2 linked regions of the Homo sapiens genome follow. The protein of the gene in region 1 binds, or shares a complex with, the protein of each later gene. Each region holds a gene or a part of one and is shown on either strand. Other genes may lie near its edges.

Region 1 (12,211 bases):
TCTCAGAGGGGGTGCCTACAAAATGGGCACAGAAAAGGAAATCAGATTTCTATTTTTTTTTTTTTTTTTTTTTGAGACAGAGTCTCACTCTGTTGCCCAGGCTGGAGTGCAGTGGTGCAATCTCGGCTCACTGCAACCTCCACCCCTGTGATCAAGTAATTCTCCTGCTGCCTCAGCCTCCCTCGTAGCTGGGATTACAGGTGTGCACTACCACTCCCGGCTAATTTTTTTATTTTTAGTAGAGACGGGGTTTCATCATGATGGCCACGCTGGTCTCAAACTCCTGACCTCAAGTGATCCGCCCACCTCGGCCTCCCAAAGTGCTGGGATTACAGGCGTGAGCCACCATGCCCAGCCAGGAGATCAGATTTCTAACCACGTCATCCCACCTCTCTGAGCCTCCATCTGGGCCTGCACCACAGAGAATGCTAATACCTGTCTGCAGGACTCTTATGAGGGTCATTTCCATGCCACCTTCACTATCTGTGACATGCAGTACTGCATATCAACATAGCACCAGTTACTGCAAGCTCACATGGGACCTTTGTGAGAATTAGAAACAGGCACCCGACTTCCCAGGGGGCGCAGCTCTGTGCAAGGGCACTAGGCTAGTGAGCAGCTCCTAGGTAACATGCTGCACGGCCCCTGCTGCTGGGCAGTGAACAACCTGCCCACAATGTGAGCACAATTTTGCCCAACAATTACACATAATGGCTCTCTTGCTAGTGTTTGACATTTTCCTTCAATAACTTATTGTCTTTATAAAAATGTATTTTCCTTTCTGTTTTATTTTTGTTTACTTTTGTAGAAATGGAGTCTCGCTGTGTTGCCCAGGGTGGTCTTGAACTCCTGGCTCAACAGGCATATGCCACCATCCTTGGCCTAAAATTTATTTTAAAAAGAAATCTTATTACTACTTTAAATAGAAAAATGGTATCACTTCCAACGAAGAGAAGATCATCTTAAAGTTAAAAATTATAAAGGTAATTACTGTTATTTAAAACCTCATAATCCCAGCACTTTCGGAGGCCGAGGTGGGCGGATCCAGCCTGGCCAACGTGGTGAAACCCCATCTCTATTAAAAATACAAAAATTAGCCGGGCGTGGTGGCACACACTTGTAATCTCAGCTACTCAGGAGGCTGAAGCAGGAGAATCGCTTGAATCCAGGAGATGGAGGTTGCAGTAAGCCGAGATCATGCCATTGCACTCCAGCCTGGGCGACAAGAGTGAAACTCCGTCTCAAAAAAAAAAAAAAAAGTCATTAGATGCTAAGCTTGAGCCTGGGGCCTTCTCTCTTCATTAAAATGAGAAAATCAGCAACTATTTAAAAAGCGTAAAAGTGAATTTATCCTTGATACAATTAAATGAATGAAATATGAAATAGGAGCTACTCTCTCACTATGTAACAGGGATCCAGAATGCTTCCTTGGGAAAACACTATGCATACATAACTGCATGATGAATTCTATTCCTTGGAACTAATGGTAAAAATAGCCACCATTTGGGAGAGTCCTTGTACCAGGCACTGCAATAACTTCTATACATCCTCATCTTTACTTACTTACCTTCATTTATTTATGAGTTGGGGTCTCACTCTACTGACCAGGCTGGAGTACAGTGACACAATCATAGCTCACTGCACCCTCAAACTCCTGGCCTCAAGCAATCCTCCCACCTTAGCCTCCTAAAGTGCCACAATTACGGGTATGAGCCACCTGGCCAAGCCTAAATTTTTTGTTTTGTTTTGTTTTTGGTAGAAACAGTGTCTCACTATGTTGCCCAGGCTGGTCTCAAACTCCTGACCTCAAGTGAGCCTCCTGCCCTGGCCTCCCAATGTGCTGGGGTTACAAGGCATAAGCCACTGTGCCCAGTCTTATCTTCATCTTTTTTTTTTTTTTTTGAGACGGGTCTTGCTCTATCACTCACACTGGAGTACACTGGTACAATCACAGCTCACTACAGCCTTGACCTCCTGGGCTGAGGTGATCCTCCTGCCTCAGCCTCCCAAGTAGTTGGGACTACAGGCATGAGCCACCATGCCTAGCTAATTTTTTTTTTATTCTTTGTAGAGATGGGGTCTCACTAAGTTACTTAAGCAATCCTCCTGTCTCGGACTCCAGGGTGCTGAGATTACAGGCGTGAGCCACCGTGCCCAGCTAATTTTTTAATTTTCAGTACAGATGGGGTCTCGCTACATTGCCCAAGTGATCCTCCTGCCTCAGCTCCCCCTAAGTGCTGGGATTATAAGTGTGAGCCACTGCACCCAGCACTCATCCTATCTTAATGCTCACAATAACTCTAGGCAAGTAGGTATCACTAGCCTGTGTCACAGATGAAGAAACTGAGATGCAGCTGGCTGACTCAAGGATAAATAAGAGCCATTCATTCATTCATTCATTTAGTAGAGATGGTGTCTCGCTATGTGGCCCAGGCTGGTCTCATACTCCTGGCCTCAAGTAATCCTCCCGCCTCAGCCTCTCACAGCGCTGGGATTACAGCGTGAGCAACCATGCCCAGCCTAAGAGTCATATTTTATTTCAACAGAAGAAAAGTCCACAAGACAGACAGCCACACAGGCCCCTCAACTAATTCCCCAGGTCCAGCCAGAACTGTCTTGGCTGCAGGTGCCCTGGGTTCTGCTTGAAAAAGGCCTGTGAGCTCTCCGCCAGTCCTCCTAGGGAGAAGAGACTAACATAAAAATGGTCGCATATAATCCCTGCCTGGGCCCCAGGGGTGCCTCTGCAATAACTCAGCTATTTGAATCATTAAATTCACTTATTACTGGAGCCCAGATAATCCTTTTATGAGTCTCCACCACAATGAGATAATGCAATTTTGCTGGGACAGAGTCACAAGAACACAAAACTCTTTCTAGTTCCTGACATAGTTGGTTCTATGTGGCACATTGCAAAAGTAAAGATGCTCTGGATGAAAGCCATGTGAGAAACAGGATGCAATATGGTCAGACTCAAGCTGGGAAAAGGCGCTCCTTCTGCTTCAGAAAAGATGCTGGAGGAACACCAATACTTCCACCCCGCAAGATGAGGCAACAAGGACAGGCTTCCATGGACGAACTAAAAACAGAGCTGGGAGGTAAGGACCAGAGACAGAAGAAAACAGCAGTGGTCGGGCGTGGTGGCTCACACCTATAATCTGAACACTTTGGGAGGCCAAGGCAGTGGATCACCTGAAGTCAGGAGTTCAAGACCACCCTGGCCAAAATGGTGAAACCCCGTCTCTGCTAAAAATACAAAAATTAGCTGGGCGTGGTGATGGGCACCTGTAGTCCCAGCTACTTGGAGGCTGAGGCAGAAGAATTGCTTGAACCTAAGAAGTGGAGGTTGCAGCGAGCCGAGATGGCGCCACTGCACTCCAGCCTGAGTGACAGGCTGAGATCCCGTCACAAAAAAAAAAAAAAGAAAGAAAATGAAAAAAACGGCAGGGAAGGGGATGAACTAGAGGATGGGAAAGTAGTAAGACTCCAAGCAGAGGCCAGAAAGGGGCAGAACAGCAAGAGACAGGAAGGTCACTGAGTGCCACATCAAAACATGCAGGTCACATGCAAGAACTGTGTAAACACACCACGCCCTTAACAAGCACTGCTGTGCGGACAGGGCCTGCTGTTATCCAGCCCCAAGTCATCTGCTTTATCTTGGACCTCAGTCTTCTTGGTCACTAAAGACTGAATCCTCTGTCCAGGAGTAGGGATTCAAAGAGCTCTGTCCTTTCATCCGTGCTGTCACATGAAAAAAAAAGAAGAAAAAGGACCTCTGTCCGACACTGTTCTCAACCTTTCTGTCCTAGTGTTAAAAATACGTAACATGCAGGGTGCAGTGGCTTGGGAGGCCGAGGCGGGCGGATCACCTGAGGTCAGGAGTTTGAGACCAGCCTGGCCAACATGGCAAAACCCTGTCTCTACTAAAAATACAAAAATTAGCCGGGCATGGTGGCAAACCCCTGTAATCCCAGGTACTCAGGAAGCTGAAGCATAAGAATCACTTCAACCCAGGAGGCGGAGGTTGCAGTGAGCCAAGATCATGACACTGCACTCCAGCCTGGGCAACAGAGGGGGACTCTGTCTCAATAAAAAATAAAAAATGTAAATTAAAATTTAAAAAAGGGCCAGGCACAGTGGCTAGCACCTGTAATCCCAGCACTTTGGAAGGCCGAGGCGGGCTGATCACTTGAGATGGAGTTCAAGACCAGCCTGGCCAACATGGTGAAACCCTGTCTCTACTAAAAATACAAAAATTAGCCAGGCATGGGCACCTATAATCCCAGCCACTAGGGAGGCTGAGGCAGAAGAATCACTTGAACCTGGGAAGTGGAGGTTGCAGTGAGCCAAGATCACACCATTGCACTCCAGTCTGTGTAACGGAGTGAGACTCCATTTCAAAAAATGACAAAAAAAAATCTGTAATATGCCAGGTGCAGTGGCTCACACCTGTAATCTCAGCACTTTGGGAGGCTGAGGCTGACAGATGATTGAGCCCAGGAGTTCAAGACCAGCCTGAGCAACAAAGTGAGACCCTGTCTCTACAGGAAAATCAAAAAATTATCTATGGGTATGGTGGCACACACCCAGCCAGGGGAGGCTGAGGCCAGAGGATCACTTGAGCCCAAGAGGTCAAGGCTGCAATGAGTTATGACTGCACCACTGCACTCTAGCCTAGGCGACAGAGGAAGACCCTGTCTCCAAAAAAAAAAAGTAATAATCTCATATGATCTGGTGCTTAATGCCAGAGTTGAATTCTTACATAAGGGTAAATGCTTAAAAAAACAGTTTTATACCCTGTCAAGTTTACCTGCAAGAATTAGTTTGCTGGCTGGGCACAGTGGCTCACACCTGTAATCCCAGCATTTTGGGAGGCCAAAGCGGGTGGATCACTGGAGGTCAGGAGTTTCAGACCAGCCTGGCCAACATGGTAAAACCCCGTCTCTACTAAAAATACAATTAGCTGGTTGTGGTGGCCCACACCTATAATCCCAGCTACTTGGGAGGCTGAGGCACGAGAATCTCTTGAACCTGGGAGGTGGAGGTTGCAGTGAGCCGAGATCGGGCCACTGCACTCCAGCCTGGGCAACAGAGTGAGACCTATCTCAAAAACAAAACAAACAAAAGAATTAGTTTGCTATTTTAAAATAACATGCAAAGAAAATGGACTTTTTCTTGTAAAACTGGAAAGATAAGTGAATCTTCTTATAAAACTTCTTTTAAAAAATTCCATCCCTGCCTGGGCTCAAATGATGGGAAAATGTACAGAAAATCCAGTTGAGTTAGCTGGAGATACCAAATACCTCTAAATGTGAGTTATCTGCAGTTATTCTATGAACAGGAGAGCCATGTGAGGCCTCAAACTAGTATTTCAGGGAGCAGCGTGCACACTCGTGGTTTTGTGGTCTTCAACCGTCCTGCTAGCCCAGATAAGTCTGGGTGGTCAAGAACCGTCTGGTGACAGCGTGCAGCCCAGCTCAGCAGAATTCAGCATGGGGGAATTCAGCCTCCTTAGAGATGCACTCCCTGCTGAAATCTCACTGCGATGGCCGTTCCCGCCCTTCCGGGGCTCTGACCAAACACTCTGACCAGGAACGCTTCCCAACAGATAAGCAGTATTCTCCATTTGGTCTAATTTATGATTCAGAAGGAAAAGGCGAAAAACGAAAACTTTCTATTCATCTATTTTTCACACCAATGGAAGCAATGTGGTGATGTATGTATGCTGTTACAGTCACTTGTGTCCTCCTGACCTATAACATTTAGAGATCCTGTCCATATTCTTCTCAAAGCTTCTCATTAAAGCACCCAGCCCTGCGCCTGGTTCCCTGCAGAGATGGAGTAACTGCTCACCCACTTGAACAAAACGATAGTGGGGCATTAAGAGGAAGCCCCAGCTCCCAGGGAGAGGTCATCTCTCACAAGAGCTGGAACTCCACTGTCCATATCCAGGGTAGGTGAGGGGCTAACCCCAGGTCATAGCCAAGCAAGCACAAAGGCAAAAAGCCCAAAACAATCAGGATGCTCAGTGCCAGCCCAACACAGTGATAGCTGGAATGGGCAGGGCTAGAGAGAAGCCAGGACTGGAACCAGGGCGGGACCATGCAGGGAGCGGGAAAGTTTGGAGGAGCACAACAGCCCCTCCGAATGCCACCGCATCACCCTGTTCCCGGACCACAGGGAGAAGAACCACCATGCACCCTCCACCAGTATCTTGGGCAGATGGGCAGGAGCTCTAGGGCCGCTTCTCAGTGTTCCTCAGATGGAGAATCAACCTCAGGACAAATCAAGTCTGGATCCTTCTGGGCTGAATCCTTTCTAGGATTGGTACCTATCATGACATGGTCACATTCCTCCACTCCTCTATGAGAGGATGGAGTCATTGGACACCAACCTAATGCTGGCAAATGACAGACAGGAAGAGCCCCAGCAGGGCAGATGCCACAGAAACCTTAACTGGGACACAGAAACATCACTAACAAAGACCCAGCAGCTGTCTTGGTGAGGGAGACACAGTCTAACAGTCACAAAGAGGCACAACGGAGACCCTAACCCCCGGCCCTCTGCAGACACCTCTGCCTGCCCTCCCAGGGAAGCTGCCGGCCAAGATTATTTCAGGTCACCAGGCAAGACTGGGTGTAACTTGGGAATGTAAGTCTATCCAATGTCAGATCCCCAGGTGCATTCCTGTCCCTATGGCTGGTCAGAAGAAGTCTCTGCTCCTGCTCCCATCCTGCATCCCCTCCTTCCAAGGCCTACGGGCTGTGCCTCCTGGATCTGCCCCCTGGATTTCACTCACGCCTGTCCACCAGCAACACAACAAAGCGATCTTTCCAGCGCCGAGCTCTGCAGGATTCCTCAAAGGATTCCCCTGCACTCCCCACCAGGTGAGCCCTCAACTTCTCTGCTAGGTGCTCAGGACCTGGCACATCTGGCCTCTGGCCACCTTTGCAGCTTCCTCACCCTCTGCTGTCTCCAAAGCTTCCCCCGAAGGGAAAGAGTATTTTCCCTCTTTCCACCCATTTTGTCCTGAAAACTACTATCCCCCTGGGAACGACCCTATGTAGCGTGTGGGTGGCTGAGAACCCCCCTTCCACACAATGGTCAAGGCCAGGAGTACCCAAGCCCTGGCAGCAAACACCCAGCCTACTGCTCACCCAGTTAAAGGACGGACCCCTGGGTGACAGCAGGCCCCGGGGCTCAGTACACCGGACCCTTAGGCCACCTCAACACCAGTCCTCATGCCAGGCTGATCTCGAAACGTAACAGCTACTGCTCAGCAAAACGTGGTGGCTAGTGCCTGTAATCCCAACACCTTGGGAGGCCAAGACGAGAGCATGGCTTGAGTCCAGGAGTTCAAGACCAGCCTAGGCAACCTGCTAGACTCCATCTCTACAAAAAAAAAAAAAAAAAATTAAAAATTAGCCGTGCATAGTGGCATGCGCCTGTAGTCCCAGCTACTACAGAGGCTGAGGTGAAAGGATTGCTTGAGTCCAGGAGTTTGAGGCTGCAATGAGCTATGATGGCATCACTGCACTCCAGACTAGCCAACAGAGCCAGACCCTGTCTCAAAAAGAAAAAAACGAAAAGAAAGAAAAGAAAAAAAATATCCACTGCTCTACTCTTCGGCCAGTGGGAAGAGTGCATTTTTTAATCAAAATAGGGGCCTCTATCCATGAAACCCATCAACTTGTAAAATCTGAGCTCTCTGCAGCCTCACAGTCCCTCCAGCACTGCCAGCAGCCCTCGTTCCCTGCATGCTCTAAATCCTCAGCGAAGACCCGTCCCTTGCTCCCTCGCCCAGCACAGGCCGCGAGTGCCCACGTCCCCTGCACCTCGTGGGGCAGCCAAGGGGGCACCGCGTGGCTCGTGTGCTCCTGGGCAGTCCATTTTCAACCACAAGACGGAACAGACTCAGAATCCGGAACATCTCTCGGTGCTTAAGAGTTTTCCTTTAACAATCTTTACCTGTGGGAATGCAGAGACCCCCCCGCCCTGCGAGAGGCCGGCAGCCAGGGATTCCCCGCTCCGCGCCCTCATCACCCCCCGGAAACCACAACCGCTGCGCGCGCGGCTCGGACCCCCACCCGCCGCTCCCCTCCAGCAGACCCTAGGCCTCCGGGAAACCGCGCGGCGACCGCCCCGCGCCCCGCCAGATCCGAACCGCCGGACCCGGCACCCCGGCCACACCCGCCGGTGTCGACGCAGCGAGGCTCGGAGGGTGCATTCTCCGCGCCGACCGCTCCCCTCCTCCAGACCCGAGGGGCGGAGTGGGCAGGGCGCGCCGGCTGCGCACCGGGCACCCACCTGGGGACGCGGGGGCTGGGGCGGCGCGGGGCCACCTGGCGGACCCGGGAGCGGACTCCGGAGAGCAGGGAGCCCCTCCCCCCTCACTCTCCGGGCCCCGCCCGGCCGCCGCGCCCCGAGGCGCAGCCATCCCGCGGGAGGGGAGGCGCAGGAGGAGGCCAGCGCGAGGACACTTACTTAAAAGGCTACATCGCTTCATTCCCAGCCCATCCTGGGCGACGGCGGCACCTCCCTCGTCCGCTGCTGGGACCTCGATGCCCACCACCCTCGCGCGGCGATCTGGCCCTATAGCCCACCCCTTACTCCGCCGTGGGGCGGAGCCGCGCCACAGCTGACCCAATGAGAAACCGTCGTTTCCCAGAGTGACGTGTACGCAGAGCAATCATGGAGTCCAGCCCAGCCGGGGGCGGGGCTCAGGCGGCTCCCTACGCTTCCTACTCCAGCTGGCCCCGCCCCACGCCCGCAACTGCGCGTGCCCAGAACGTGAGGGGCGGGGCTGGGAGCCGGGCTGACACTAGAGGTGGGGTTAGCGCTTGGAAGCACCGACCAACGTGAGCGCAACGCGGCAGGGACACCTGACCCCGGCGGCGCCCAGCCCCTCGGATTGCCAGTCACTGCTCGCTTTGGGGCACGGAGGTGCCCAGTCCTGCGGGGCACCCGACGTCCTGTCGCCGACAGGGTCCGGGAGTCAGTATAGCTGGGTTCTAGTCCCATCACAGGCAAAAACTCCGCGGGAGCCTGGCCCGCTTTTTACCTGGGCCTCAGTTTCCCCATCCGTAAAATAGAACGGGTTGGATCTCCCGAGCGCTAACATTCCAGAACTCGGATGGGGCGAAGGGGAGGGAGGGATGGGCCACCCACACGTGACCTCCCCGCGTGGAGCCCCGCCTACCACTGATCCAGGGGGTGGCAGCTCCGGCCGGGACGAGCGGGGTGGGCGGGTCCTAGGAAACCCTACCCGGCCGCCCTTGGCAGCGCCTAAGGCGGAGCGCGCGGCTCTGCAGCCTGCTTGCCCCGGAGTTGGCACCCACGGAGGATGGGGACCGCACCCTCAGCTTCGCAGGGAGCCACCGTGGAGGCCAGGGCGGTGCAGAGACACGACGTGTGACTCGGAGTGCGCCTGGGGAGGATGGACGAGGGAGCGGGGGACCGCTAACGGGGCTCCCTCTGCGCGCCCCGTCCGCAGAGGCGCACGTCGAGGGTCCCGGGCGGGCTCCGTGGACGTTGGCGGTAGCGCCGAGCGAGTCACGGACCATGAAGAGCGTTCGTGCCGCGCGGCCCAAGGCCGGGATGGGGGTTAGCCACATCCTGCCGCGCTGAGGGGGAGGCTAACGGGCGCGGGCGGCCGGGCCCAGCCGGAGCCCACCGCGATGGCGAGGGAGGAGTGCAAGGCGCTGCTGGACGGGCTCAACAAGACGACTGCGTGCTACCACCACCTGGTGCTGACCGTCGGTGGCTCGGCGGACTCGCAGAACCTGCGGCAGGAGCTGCAAAAGACGCGCCAGAAGGCGCAGGAGCTGGCGGTGTCCACCTGCGCCCGGCTGACTGCTGTGCTGCGCGACCGGGGCCTGGCCGCCGACGAGCGCGCCGAGTTCGAGCGGCTCTGGGTGGCCTTCTCGGGCTGCCTGGACCTGCTGGAAGCGGACATGCGACGCGCGCTGGAGCTGGGCGCCGCGTTCCCGCTGCACGCGCCGCGGCGGCCGCTGGTGCGCACAGGTGTGGCTGGCGCCTCCTCCGGCGTGGCGGCGCGCGCGCTGAGCACCCGCAGCCTGCGGCTCGAGGCGGAGGGCGACTTCGACGTCGCGGACCTGCGGGAGCTGGAGCGCGAGGTCCTTCAGGTGGGCGAGATGATCGACAACATGGAGATGAAGGTCAACGTGCCCCGCTGGACCGTGCAAGCCCGGCAGGCGGCGGGCGCCGAGCTCCTGTCCACGGTCAGCGCCGGCCCCTCCTCGGTCGTGTCCTTGCAGGAGCGCGGGGGGGGTTGCGACCCCAGGAAGGCCCTGGCCGCCATCCTTTTCGGCGCCGTGCTGCTGGCGGCTGTGGCCCTAGCCGTGTGCGTGGCGAAGCTGAGCTGACGGACACCCGACGGCCGCCTGCTGCTGCCGCTCCCTCCCCTGAGAAAAGACTCGGGATGGGTGTGGGGTCTGGCCTGTGCAAGGGGAGTGGTCCTAAAACCCCGTGTGTGCATGGGTACACGCGCGTTTCCAGTGCACATCTGCCTGGGCAGGACACGGTTTCCTCTTGCTGGCCCGGGAGGAGTTAACTTTGCGCCGGCCGTCAGGGCATTACCGCTAACGTCTGCAGGAGCTTTATTCCCTATTAATAGAAAACCGTCACAGTGACCCTAGATCCCTCCGAGTTAATGAGTTAACACATGTGCTGTTGGGGCGTCTTTACAGGGAGTCCGAGTTCGGTGCCCACCCCTGCCAGCGTCGCCCCCTTTCTGCGTGGGACAGTTTGAAAAGGTGGGTGGGGTGGAGTGAAGTTTGGAGAGGGACGCTGTTTGGTTCTATGTGGTTGGTCTGTTTCCCGGACAAGAAAAATTGCAATCAAATGTCAGCAGCTTTTATTACCTTAATCTTTCAGGGCCTAAATTTAGGAGAGTGTCCCGAGAGCAGTTCATACAAAGGGCTTTCTCTAAGACGCGCTACAGCCCTTCCTAGCAGAGTTTATCCATTCGTCCCCAAGAGCAGCTAGAAGAGATTTGAGGTCATGACCTCCCACTGCCGCTCAGGGGCTGACCCTATTTAGGAAACCAAAGAGGGTGGGTTGAACCTACTCTCACGGACTTGGATCCAGTGCGCACACTTGCCTGCGGAAAAGGGCTCTCCCCAGCCACCCGGAGATGGGGGTAAGAGGAAGAGCAGAGGCTTGGGGTAGGGCCACCTGGTGTTTAAACAGGCACTTTCTCCTTCTCTGGGGCTTATTTTTGTTCAGAACTAGACCAGAGTGTTTGAACCTCCTTTGCAGGAGGGCTGGGAATCCTCTTTAGAGCACTTAATCCTATTTATCCCCTGGAATGTGCGTGCTGGCCAGTAGGAGGGCTGGCTTTGGCAGCTCCCTGACCCCCGCGCTGCCCGCCCCTCCGGGGTAATGTGGCATTACTGGCCCACAGAGGTTTTGAGCCAATCAGCTCTGAGACTGGGTTAGAATGTAACAGCTTTAACTTGGGATTTAAGAAGCTTTTAAAAGGTAATAATACTCTGAAAGAAAAATGACGTAACCACAGCGTGTACTATGAAAGCTGTTATTTTAATAAAGAACGCTGGGCCATGAACTCATACCTGCCAATGAGTCAAACATAGTATCTTTATGTAGATACTTAGATTACTAAATATATATTTCATCTACTTCTGAAGTTGATAGTCTTCCCCCCCCCCCACTTTTTTCTTTTTTGAGACAGGGTCTCCCTCTGTCACCCAGGCTGGAGTGCAATGGTGTGATTGTGGCTCACTGCAGCCTCCAAATCTCGGGCTCAAACTATCCTCCTACTTCAGCCTCCTGAGTAGCTGGAACTACAGGTGTGTGCCACCGCACCTGGCTAATGTTTTTAAGGCAGTTAATTTATTTATTTATTTTTATTTTTCTTTAGAGATAGGATCTTGTGGTGTCGCCCAGGCTGGAGTGCAGGGGCGCAATCAGCAAACCACAGCCTTGAACTCCTGGGCTCAAGCTCTCCTCCCACCTCACCCTCCCAAGTAGCTGGGACTAAAGGTGTGCATCACGGCACTCAACTAATTTTTTGTAGAGACAGAGTTGGGCTATGTTGCCCAGGCTGGTCTCAAACTCCTGGCCTCAAGTGGTCCTCCCACCTAGGCCTCCCAAAGTACTGGGACTACAGGCATAAGCTACTATGCTCAGTCTAAAATCAATATTCTTTATTTTTTTCTATAATTTCACTGCA
Region 2 (11,524 bases), on another chromosome or scaffold:
TAGTTCTGAGCTTCTGGTATAATCACTGTCCGATGAGATCTACAGAGGATTAGGTCCCGGGTCACATCTTTGTCCTTCCTCCCACCCGTAGCCACTTTTCACAGCGTAGTGTCCATCTTCTTAGGCTTATCTTGTTGAGTAGAATTAGTTGAATGTTTTGTGACAAGCTGAGCTCTCCCTGAGCCCCTGGAGCTCAGCAAATTTGTATAGTCAGTGACCGCTGTCCTGATTTGCCCAGGACTTTCAATGCTAAAACCTGGACAGTCCTGGGGACCCCGAGACGGTCGCATTTGGTCCACCTGTTTCAAGATGCTCGTGCTCATCTTCCGGGTAGCAGAGGTGTGGGTATCATCTGTAAAGCAGACAGGCTGAATGTTGTCTCACTCAGAAAGAACCCTGAGAGCCTGTATTGCAGATACCAGTTACTAAAAGCAGAAGAAACTGCCTAAGTCGGCTATCTCAAAGCCACACATCATCTTCCAGGATTTATCCTAGGACTGTCTCCTCCCAGGCAGGACAGCTCTGGCTTGGGGGCTCAGAGGGTAATTGTCAAGAGATAAATTCAGTTTGTTTATTGAATCTCTGGCATTCTTTTCCATCATGACTCTTCTCTGGTAGATTCTCCTCTCCTTACCTTGGTCTTCTGACTAGTGTCTTGGTCTCTAGTTTCTCTCCTCCACCCCAGGCTTCCCTCCTCCTCCCCAGCCACCCCTCCTCCACCCCAGCATCCCCTCCTCCACCCCAGCATCCCCTCCTCCACCCAAACTCTCCCTCCTCCACCTTAGTCTCCCTTCCTCCACCCTAACCTCTCCCTCCTCCATTCCAGCTCCCCTCCTCCACCCCAGCTCTCCCCCCTCCACCCCACCTTTCCCTCCTCCACCCCAGGTCCTCTTCCTCCACCCTGTCTTCCCCTTCCTCTACCCCATCCTCCTCCTCCTCCCCAGCCTTCTCCTCCTCCATCCTAACTTACCTCTCCTCTACCCTAACCTCCCCCTCCTGCATCCCAGCTCCCCATCTTCCACCCCGGTCTCCCCTCCTCCATGACAGCTTTCCTACACACACTGTTTTTTTCCCCCAAATCAATGGTGACCTCCTTGACCTGAAACGCTCCACTGGCTTCCCACATTCCCAGCATAAAGTCCAACCTTCCCCTGAGCAGCCTGGTTACCCAGGATTCCGCTCCCACCATCTTCCTGGCTTTGCCTCCTGCCTGCCTTCCACACCTGCCCTCTGGGAAACAACAAAGCAGCCACAGGCACCCCTGGGCTCCTGCCTCAAACACTTCCTTCCTTTTTAGGAACCCGGTGCCCTTTCATGCCTCAGGGTCCGTCTGCTGGGAAAGTCCTTTCTCCCCCTCTCGCTTGCCAAGCTCCACTTCTCTTCCCATGCCCAGCTCAGTCACCCCTCGGCTGTGAAGGCTGGTTCTCCTAATGCCCCTGGGCAGGACAGCTCCCTTCTCTGTGCACTACAGACCTTGCCACACCTCCAGCATTGCTCTTTCCCTAGACCTTGTGCTGGCAAGGGCCCTGTCTATGTATCCTCTATATCTATGTATGTATTGGTCATGTCACAGAGCTCCTTGGAGCAGCAGACAGAATAAAGGTCTGCAGAACAGGTCTCAAGAGCCCATGCCAGGCGATCCTTAATGAAGAACCAGCTACATTCGATGTTCAGCTTTCTGGAGAAGGGCCTGGAACAAAAAAATGTGGACCTGGGTGCAACTGTCACTCATCACTCGTTCCATGCATGTGATGAAGTACACGGTGTCCATGATGGTGTGGAGGGGTGGGCATTATGTGCATTATCTCATCTATTTCATTAGCTGGAGGTTATGGCCACCATTTTACAGAGAAGAAAGCTGAGGCTCAGAGAGGCTAAGCGGCTTGCCAGTCACGCAGCACTAGGTGGTGAAACCAAGAAGAAATACAGGAGTGGTCGTTGTCTGTCACAAGTTGTGGTGCAATGCCCTGAGCTTTCCCATGACGTAGGGCAGAGTGTGGAGGCTGTGGGAAAGCCTGGCTCAGTGTGCTTAGGGACACAGAGCTGAGACCTGAAGGATACATAGGGTTTCCAGGCAGAAAGGGAAAGATGTTTCAGGCAGAGGGAACAGTTTACGCACAGAGGCATGGGAAAGCTAGTGGGTTTGGGGCCATGTTCTGTAATGGATGGATTTTGAAGTGCAAGGGGAGTGGGAAGCTGGAAAGGAAAGGCAGAGGTAGTGGGTGCCTATGGGCCTTCAAGACCTTTTAAAGGTTTGGTTTTATCTCATACGGAGCCACTATAGAAATTGGAATGGGCAAGTGATATGGCAGATTTGCAAATTAAGAAGATCACTGGTGGGCCAGTTGCAGTGGCTCATGCCTGTAATCCCAGCAGTTTGGGAGGCCAAGGTAGGTGGATCATCTGAGATCAGGAGTTTGAGACCAGCCTGGCCAACATGGCAAAACCCTCTGACTATTAAAAATATAAAAATTAGCAGGGCGTGGTGGTGAGCACCTGTAATCCCAGCTACTTGGGAGGCTGAGGCAGGAGAATTGCTTGAACCCGGGAGGTGGAGGTTGCAGTAACTGAGTTCACAAGTTCTTGCCACTACACTACACTCTAGCCTGTGTGACAGAGAGAGACTCTGTCTAAAAAAAAAAAAAGGACCACTGGTGTGAGCCAGAGGAATGGGTGGAATGCCTTCTCCCTGAACTAAGAGAGTTCACTCAGGATCCTCCTGTGCCCCTGCAGCTCCAACCTCTTGAGAAATGACAACTGTCATGGGGCCATGGAGAGCCATACTGGTCAGAAAGGACCGTGTGCGATTCCCGAGGTTCTCACACCCATGCCTCCATCTCAGTCTCAATGCAGCTGTGGGTCGGGATGCCCGCCGGCCATGCTGCTTCCCACCTCTGATGCCTGGGCTCGTTTCAGATGTGGTAGAAAGAGGCAGAAGGCCCATCTGTTCATGGCTTTGCTGGGGAATTAGCTGATGGCACACAGTGGACAGATGAACACAGGTGGGTGGCCTCCTGTGGTTCCAGCACCCATGGACTCTTGTTCTGGGGATGGCCCATTCCCCTCTGCAATTACCAGATCACCATCCCAGCCAGTACCACCACCGCCCTTGGGATTCACCATGGGCGAATTTCTTGGACTTTCTTGGAGAAGCCTTCTGGTGACAGCTTTGTTTTCCTGTGCGGCTTCTGGCATCTCTTTTTGCCTGAGAAAGGAATGCAGAAGCAGAAATATTGAGGATATCCAGGCCGAGTTTGGTATCTCTTGCTTGTAACATTCTTTCATTCAATACAGACATATAATTGGGTACTTATGGGCTAGATGCTGTGCCAGGTGCTGGGAGCACCAAGGAGCTTAGAGTCTAGTGGAGAAAGACAGATGTATAAACAAGGAGACAAGAAGTGTTCCATAGGCTGTGGCAGACATTGTTGGAGGATACATGTGACACCAAGCAGGGAGTGGTCAGTTCTACCTGGGGTCAGGGGGGATCAGGACAGATTTTACAAGGGGGCTTGCAATGGAGTCGAATTATAAAAAGTCAGTAGTTTTTGGCCAGGAGGTTGAGGAAATGAGTGACATTTTAGGCAATACAAAACAGGGACATGTGAAGTAGCATGGTGGTTTGGGAGATTGCCTGCGGGTTGGGAGAGCTGGCCCCAAGTGTACAGGAAGTGAGTTTGGCGTTGATGGAGAAGACTGGTAGGTAAGAAAGGCCCAGATCTGCTGGGTGCAGTGGCACATGCCTGTAATCCCAGTACTTTGGGAGGCTGAGGTGGACGGATCACTAGGTCAGGAGTTCAAGACCAGCCTGGCTAACATGGTGAAACCAAAAATACACAAATTAGCCAGGCATGCTGGCATGCGCCTGTAATCCTAGCTACTTGGGAGGCTGAGGCAGGAGAATTGCTTGAACCCAGGAGGCGGAGGCTGCAGTGAGCTGAGATCATGCCACCGCACTCCAGCCTGGGTGACAGAGCAAGACTCAGTCTCAAAAAAAACCCAAAAACCAAAAACCAAAAACAAACAAACAAAAAGAAAAGCCCAGAACTGGAGGGCTTCCTAGGTCATGCTACAGAGTTTGATGGCTTCTGTGTTTAATGAGAAGCTGTTTGACGTTTTAAAATCAGGGATGAATAAGATGAGTTGGTTTATATGCTAGAAAGATGATTCTGGTGAGAGGGAATGAGTAATTCTCAACCTGGGCTGCACTTTAAAAAACATTAATATCAACTCACTCTACTTTGAGTTTCTGATTTACTTGGCCTGGAAGTGAGGCTTAAGCATTGGTCTTTTTATGCCACTGTTTTTCTCCCTTCCTTTCTTTTTTTTTTTTTTTTGTTTGTTTTTGAGACAGAGCCTGTCTCTGTTGCTCAGGCTGGAGTACAGTGGCGAGATCTCGGCTAACGGTAACCTCTGCCTCCCGGGTTCAAGTGATTCTCCTGCCTCAGCCTCCCAAGTAGCTGGGGATACTGGGACCTGCTACCATGCCTGGCTAATTTTTGTGTTTTTAGTAGAGACGGGGTTTCACCATGTTGGTCAGGCTGGTCTCAAACTCCTGACCTCAGGTGCCCCACCTGCCCTGCCTCCTAAAGTGCTGGGATTGCAGGTGTAAACCACAAAGCCTGGCCTGGTTTTCTTTTTGTTTCTTTCTTTCTTTTTTTTTCTTTTTTAACAATTTCTTTTTTTAGAGATGGGTTTTCACTATATTGCCCAGGCTGGACTCAAGCTCCTGGGCTCAAGGGATCCTCTCACCTTGGCTTCCTGAGTAATTTCATTTACAGGTGCCTGCCATCATGCCAGGCTTAACCATTGCTCTTTTTGAAAAGTTTTCCAGGTGGTTTGAATGTGCAGTCAGGATGAGAGCCTCTGGGGACATTTGGCAATGTCTAAATACATTTTAGGTTGTCATAACTGGGGGTGCTCCTGGCATCTAGTGGGTGGAGGACATGAATGCTGCTAAACATCCTACAACACACAGGACAGCCGCCCTCACCAACCCCCAAAGAATGATCCAGCTCCAAGCGTTGATGGGGCCACTGTTGAGAGCCCTGGGCTAAGGAGCACCCCGGAGGCTGGAGACAGATGCCAGCTCAAAGGCAGAACCTGATAGTCCAGGAAGGGGGTTAGAAGATGTTCCACGGAGGCAGGATTGAGTGGGCAGAGAAGAGATGTGTTGAAAACAAAAGCAGTCAGACTGAGCAACATATCAAGACCCATCTCTATAAGAAAATTTAAAAATTAGCTGGGGGCCAGGAGTGGTGGCTCACGCCTTTATCCCAGCACTTTGGGAGGCCAAGGTGGGTGGATCACTTGAGCCCAGGTGTTCGAGACTAGCCTGGGCAACATGGTGAAACCCTGTCTCTACCAAAAATACACACACACACACACAAATGAGCTGGGCATGCTGGCAGGCACCTCTAGCCCCAGCTACTAGGGAGGCTGAGGTGTGAGAATCACTTGAACCCAGGAGGCAGAGGTTGCAGTGAGCCGAGATTGTGCCACTGCACTCCAGCCTGGGCGACAGAGCCAGACTCTGTCTCAAAAAAAAAAAAAAAAAAAATTAGCTGGGCAGGGTGGCACATGCCTGTAGTCTTAGCTATGGGATGCTAAAGTGGGAGGATCACTTATGCCCAGAAGTTTGAGGCCACAGTGAGCTATGATCATGCCACTGTACTCCAGCCTGAAAAAAAAAAAAAAGGAAACAAAAGCAGATTCAACAAAAGTTGGCCACATCTTGGCTGGGGTCACCTGGAACGATTCCCAGGCTTTTGAATCGGTGGGAAGAGCAGATTTTGGAGAAAGACTACCGAGCACTGGTTAGGGCATGGTGCCTCATGAGTGTCTGAGCGTCTGCGAGACATCGGGTGAGACAGCGGGAGGGTGGCTGGACTCTGTGTGGCCAGGCTTATTAGCAGGAGTACATCCTCCTCTGTTAGAAAAACAACTCTGCGGTTCTGGGTCACTTTTCCCATCTTTGTATAGAAAAGTACCGATTATTATTGTTCCCCCGGGTGCCTTCTCCAGCTTAAAGGAAAATTCCAGCCCCAGAGATCTTCCGCAGTGAGTGACAGCTCCTTAATGTGAGGAGCAGCGTGGGCGTGGTGGGTGGGATGTCAGAGCCATCAAAGCCCTCATTTCTGATCCCTCTGTGATGTCGGGGTTCCCTGGCACGCCCACTGTCATGCCTCAGCACATTGGCATCTGAGAGAGGAAAGGTGCAGCTGACACCCTGACCCCCTTCTCCCCGACACGGGGTCAGACAGGGTCCCGCGGTGGCCTGGTTGTGCAGCACTGACATGTTGCCTGGGAACGAAGCGGGGCTGATGCTTTGTCTTGGGAGGAGCTGGGAAGCAGAGTCTGTTTGGGAGTGAGAGTGTTGGCCTTTGAGGGTGAGCATGCCCCCAAGGACACAAGGAGGAGAGTGCAAGGTCTGCTGAAGTTTGCAGCAGAATAGCAAGGGCATCTCACTCCCTGGAGAACTTGGGAAACAGTTCAGATTCTCTCCCCTCTGTGCAGGGGAAGGGATGTTTCTGATTGAATATAGGACACAGAGTCTGTATGAGTTTGTAGGGCTGTCGTCACAAAGATGCATAGACTGAGTGGCTTAAGCAACAGAAACTTCTTTGCTGACAGTTCTGGAGGCTGGAAGTCTGAGATCAAAGTGTGGCACGGTTGGCTTCTCCTGAAGCTTCTCTCCTTGGCTCGCAGATGGCCGTCTTCTCTCTGTTCTCACATCATCTTCCCTCTGTGTCTATCTGTGTCCTAATCTGTTCTCATAAAGACACTGGTCATAGGGGATTAGGGTCCACTCCATGACCTCATTTCACCGCTTTATTTTATTTTTTTATTTTTATTGAGAATGAGTCTCACTCTGTTGCCCAGGCTGGAGTGCAATGGCGAGATCTTGGCTCACTACAACCTCCACCGCCCGGGTTCAAGCGATTCTTCTGCCTCAGCCTCTAGAGTAGCTGGGACTACAGGTGCCCCCCACCACGCCTGGCTAATTTTTTTGTATTTTTAGTAGAGATGGGGTTTCACCTTATTGGCCAGGCTGGTCTCAAACTCCTGACCTCATGATCCACCGGCCTTGGTTTCCCAAAGTGCTGGGATTACAGGCATGAGCCATTGTGCCCAGCCTTATTTTTACTTTTTTGAGACTGAGTCTCACTCTGTTGACCAGGCTGGCGTGCAGTGGCTTGATATCGTCTCAGTGCAACCTCTGCCTCCCGGGTTCAAGCGATTCTCCTGCCTCAGCTCCTGAGTAGCTGGGATTGTAGCCTGCCACCACTCCTGGCTATTTTTTTTTTTTTTAATATATTTTTAATAGAGATGAGGTTTGCCATGTTGGCCAGGCTGGTCTCGAACTCCTGACCTTGAGTGATCTGCCCATCTCAGCCTCCCAAATTGCTGGGATTACAGGTGTGAGCCAGTGCACCTGGACTCATTTCACCTCTTTAAAGACCTTATCTTCAAAAGCAGTCACAGTCTGAGGTACTGGGGTTAGGACTTCAATGTACGAATTTGTAGGGGGACGCAGTTCAGCCCATAGAGCTAGAGTTCTGTGGTTTCCTGGGGAGACTGAGGAGACGCCTCAGAGGAATTTGTACGGGGAAAGGTCTGAGGAAAAAGGATCGGATCCCAATGGGCCGAACTCCCTCAAAATGTTCCCGAGGTCCACGTGACGTTCCCTCCTCCCACCCAGCCCTTCTTTCTGTGAAGGGTGACACACCTCCTAGAAAGAAATCTGACTCCCCTCATTGTGTTTTTAAAATAACTCTCATTATTCCTCCTCTGAAGGTTATTTTCAAACTCTTTATAACTCGATTTTTTTTTAAATGCAAAGACAAGGAATCAAATCTGCCAACTTTCTATCAGAGAAACTCGGGTTTCTAACTTTTAAAGTGGGATTATATGTCTTCTCCAATATATGGGCTCCCTGCTTTTATAACATGCTGCTGTTACATCTAATAAAAACCATTTTGAATGAAGGCAGCCTTTCATCCGGCAGCTAATGTGGGAAAAAGGAGTCTTGGGCCCTCATATTAGAAAATCTTGGCCTGGCGTGGTGGCTCACGCCTGTAATCCCAGCACTTTGGGAGGCCAAGGTGGGCGGATCACGAGGTCAAGAGATCAAGACCATCCTGGCAAACCTGGTGAAACCCCGTCTCTACTAAAAATACAAAAATTAGCTGGGTTTGGTGGGGTGCGCCTGTAGTCCCAGCTACTTGGGAGGCTGAGGCAGGAGAATCGCTTGAACCTGGGAGGCGGAGGTTGCAATGAGCCAAGATCCGCCACTGCACTCCAGCTTGGCGACAGAGCAAGACTGTCTCAAAAAAAAAAAAAAAGAAAAGAAAATCTTGGCCGGGCACGGTGGCTCATGCCTGTAATCCCAGCACTTTGGGAGGCTGAGGCAGGCAGATCACTTGAGGTCAGGAGTTTGAGACCAGCCTGGACAACATGGTGAAACCTCATCTCTACTAAAATACAAAAAATTAGCGTAGTGGCGCGCGCCTGTAGTCCCAGCTTCTCAGGAGGCTGAGGCACAAGAACCGCTTGAGCCCAGGAGGTGGAGGTTACAGTGAGCCAAGATCATGCCACTACAGCTTGGGCTACAGAGTAAGACTCCGTCTCAAAAACAAACAAACAAACAAAAAAAGAAAATCAGGCACTTCTTGGGTACCATGGAGACCTGAGGTCACAGTTAGTGGAGAACTCCAGAAGGAGTCACTCCTGCAGCCTGTTGCCTCCTCAGTTCCCTGGGCCACCCCCAGGAGCAGCAGCTGTACCTCCCAGTGCCCCGCAAACACCCTCCTGGCGTTGTCCCTTTGCTTCCCTCATTGCTGCTGGACCTACAGCTGACCCAGTGACCTCAGATGCTGCCAAGTCCTGACACTGCAGATGGCCAAGGACTATGGCTCTGAGTCAAGCCAAAATAAGTATTTTCTGTTCCAAAACAATTCTGTGAGCCGAGAATGTGTCCGTGCAGAGGAAGCTGACAGTCAGTCTTGCACCAGGAGTCCCTGGAGCTGCCTGGGTCTGCACGCTGGCTGGCTGTGTGCTCAGAGTGGCCTCAGCTGTGTACCTGCCCTTGGCCCATTTCTTGAAATCGTGGTTCAGCTGCAAATGCTGGTTTAGCAATAAAGATTGAAATAGGGAATCTCACCCCTCAGCATCAAGTTAGGTCATGGTCCCACGCTCCTTGGGAAGGTGGGAGCTTCCCAGCTTCAGGCTGCCTGAGTGACAGGTGGCAGGTAGCATTTTTCCACTTCAGGACTCCCTTGAATGACCCGTCACCTTGAATGCACCTGGATCATTCTCTCTCTCTTTTAAAAACTTTTTTTTTTTTTTTTTTTTTGAGACAGAGTCTCACTCTGTTACCCAGGCTGGAGTGCGGTGGCATGATCTCAGCTCACTGCAACCTCCACCTCCTGGGTTCAAGTGATTCTCCTGCCTCAGCCTCCTGAGTAGCTGGGATTACAAGCATGCGCCATCACACCCAGCTAATTTTTGTATTTTTTGTAGAGACGGGGTTTTACCATGTTGGCCGGGCTGGTGTCGAACTCCTGCCATCAAATGATCTGTCTGCCTTACCCTCCCAAAGTGCAGGGATTACAGGCATGAGCCACTGTGCCCGGCCTCTCTTTAAAAAATTTTTATTTTATTGTGGTGAGAACATCTCACACGAGATCTACCCTTTCAAAACTTTAAGTGCACAATACAATATTGTTGATGAGGTACAATGTTGTACAGCAGATGTCTAGAATGTATTCATCTCATTTAACTGAAAGTTCTTTATGTCTGTTGAGTAGCAACTCCCCAGTTTCCCTTCTCTCTAACCCCTGGCAACCACCATTCTGATATTTGATCTATGAATCTGTCTATTCTAGGTACTTCATGTAAGTGGAATCGTGTGGTATTTGTCCTTCTGTGACCGGCCTATTTCACTTAGCATAATTAGCCCTAGGTTCATCCATTTGCTTGCATATTGCAGAATTTCCTTCTTTTCGAAAGCCAAACAATGTTCTTTTGTATGCATAGAACACATTTTCTTTGTTCATCTGACAGTGGACACTTAGGTTATTTCCACATTTTGGCTAACGTGTATAGTGCTGCAGTGAACATGGGAGTGCAGGTATCTTTTCCAGAGCCTGATTTCAATTCTTTTGGGTACATACCCAGAAGTGGTATTGTTGGATGCTGTGGTAGTTCTATTTTTAATTTTTCTGATGAACCTCCATACTGTTTTCCACAGCAGATGCACCATTTTATATTTCTACCAACAGTGCACAGGGTTCCAATTTCAATCTCTTTCCATTTCTGAATTAAGAAACCTGAGTCCTTCTTATACCACCCCTCCCTTGGAGTGCGGCCTGGTCCTCACCATCTAGGGAGATTCTGTTGGCCCTCTCTGCACTTTTTTTGGGATCATCTCAGCCAGTCTGCAGTTGCTATTTTTTTTGTGGGTAGGTGTGGGGAGGAGGACAAGGGCTCCCTGTGTTGCCCAGGCTGGTTTCAAACTCCTGGGCTCGAGTGATCTTCCTGCCTCAGCCTTCCAGGTAGCTGGGATTACAGGCATGAGCTACCATGTCTGACTTGCAATTGCTATTTCATAAATACTTTGTGCACAGAATGATATGAAATGCTTTGTATGCTTAATCTCATTTAGTCTTTGCAATATCCCTACGATGATTGGTTTTGGTGTTTTTTTTGTTTTGTTTTGTTTTTTGAGGCAAGGTCTCTCTCTGTTGCACAGACTGGAGTGCAGTGACGTGATCTCGGCTCATTGCAACCTCTGCCTCCCAGGTTCAAGCGATTTTCCTGCCTCAGCCTCCTGAGTAGCTGGGATTGTAGGCGCCCGCCACCATGCCCGGCTAGTTTTTTTTTTGTTGTTGTTATGTTTAATAGAAACGAGGTTTTGCCATGTTGGCCAGGCTGGTCTCGAACTCCTGACCTCAAGTGATCCACCCGCCTTGGCCTCCTAAAATGCTGAGATTACAGGCATGAGCCATCGCACCGGGCCTGATGCTATTGCAAGTTCTATTTTACAGATAAATGAGTCCTAGTGAAATTTAGCAATTTACCAAAAGCCTCTAGCTTCTAAATTGGAGCAGAGATGTGAAACTGAACTTTCTCTGCATTCAGACTCCTAGCTTTCATATTAGTTAACTTTTCATTTTCATGTAACTGTCTGCTCAACTTTCTGAAGACTGGGTGTATGTCTTTTACCTTGTATCCTTGCAGTGCAGGGTTCTTAATACATGCTCAATAAATACCTATACTTATTTGGTTTGTTGACCTGGGTTTCTATTCCTGGGCACCTAAACACAACCCTGCATGCAAAGTTTCAAAATGTATTAGTATGAATGCTACTAATATTAATAATTCTAACCATAATAGTGAACATATGTCTCTCCTGATAAAGCATATATCTTCATGCATACATAACATATATCTCTCCTTATAGAGCATTTTACATAATTAAATTCTAAGGGATTATAAAGTCACAAATTAATTAAATTCTAAG

What was found.
Region 2: RGS9BP (region 1) and RGS9 share a complex: the UniProt entries of both Homo sapiens proteins name them as parts of the RGS9-1-Gbeta5 complex.

Annotation. Positions count from the first base shown.
Region 1 is NC_000019.10:32,666,590-32,678,800, forward strand, and holds RGS9BP (regulator of G-protein signaling 9-binding protein), read left to right. Parts: upstream 1-9,258; 5' UTR 9,259-9,674; coding exon 9,675-10,382; 3' UTR 10,383-11,711; downstream 11,712-12,211. UniProt on the Homo sapiens protein: Regulator of G protein-coupled receptor (GPCR) signaling in phototransduction. Participates in the recovery phase of visual transduction via its interaction with RGS9-1 isoform.
Region 2 is NC_000017.11:65,138,254-65,149,777, forward strand, and holds part of RGS9 (regulator of G-protein signaling 9), read left to right. Parts: intron 1-11,524. UniProt on the Homo sapiens protein: Inhibits signal transduction by increasing the GTPase activity of G protein alpha subunits thereby driving them into their inactive GDP-bound form. Binds to GNAT1. Involved in phototransduction; key element in the recovery phase of visual transduction.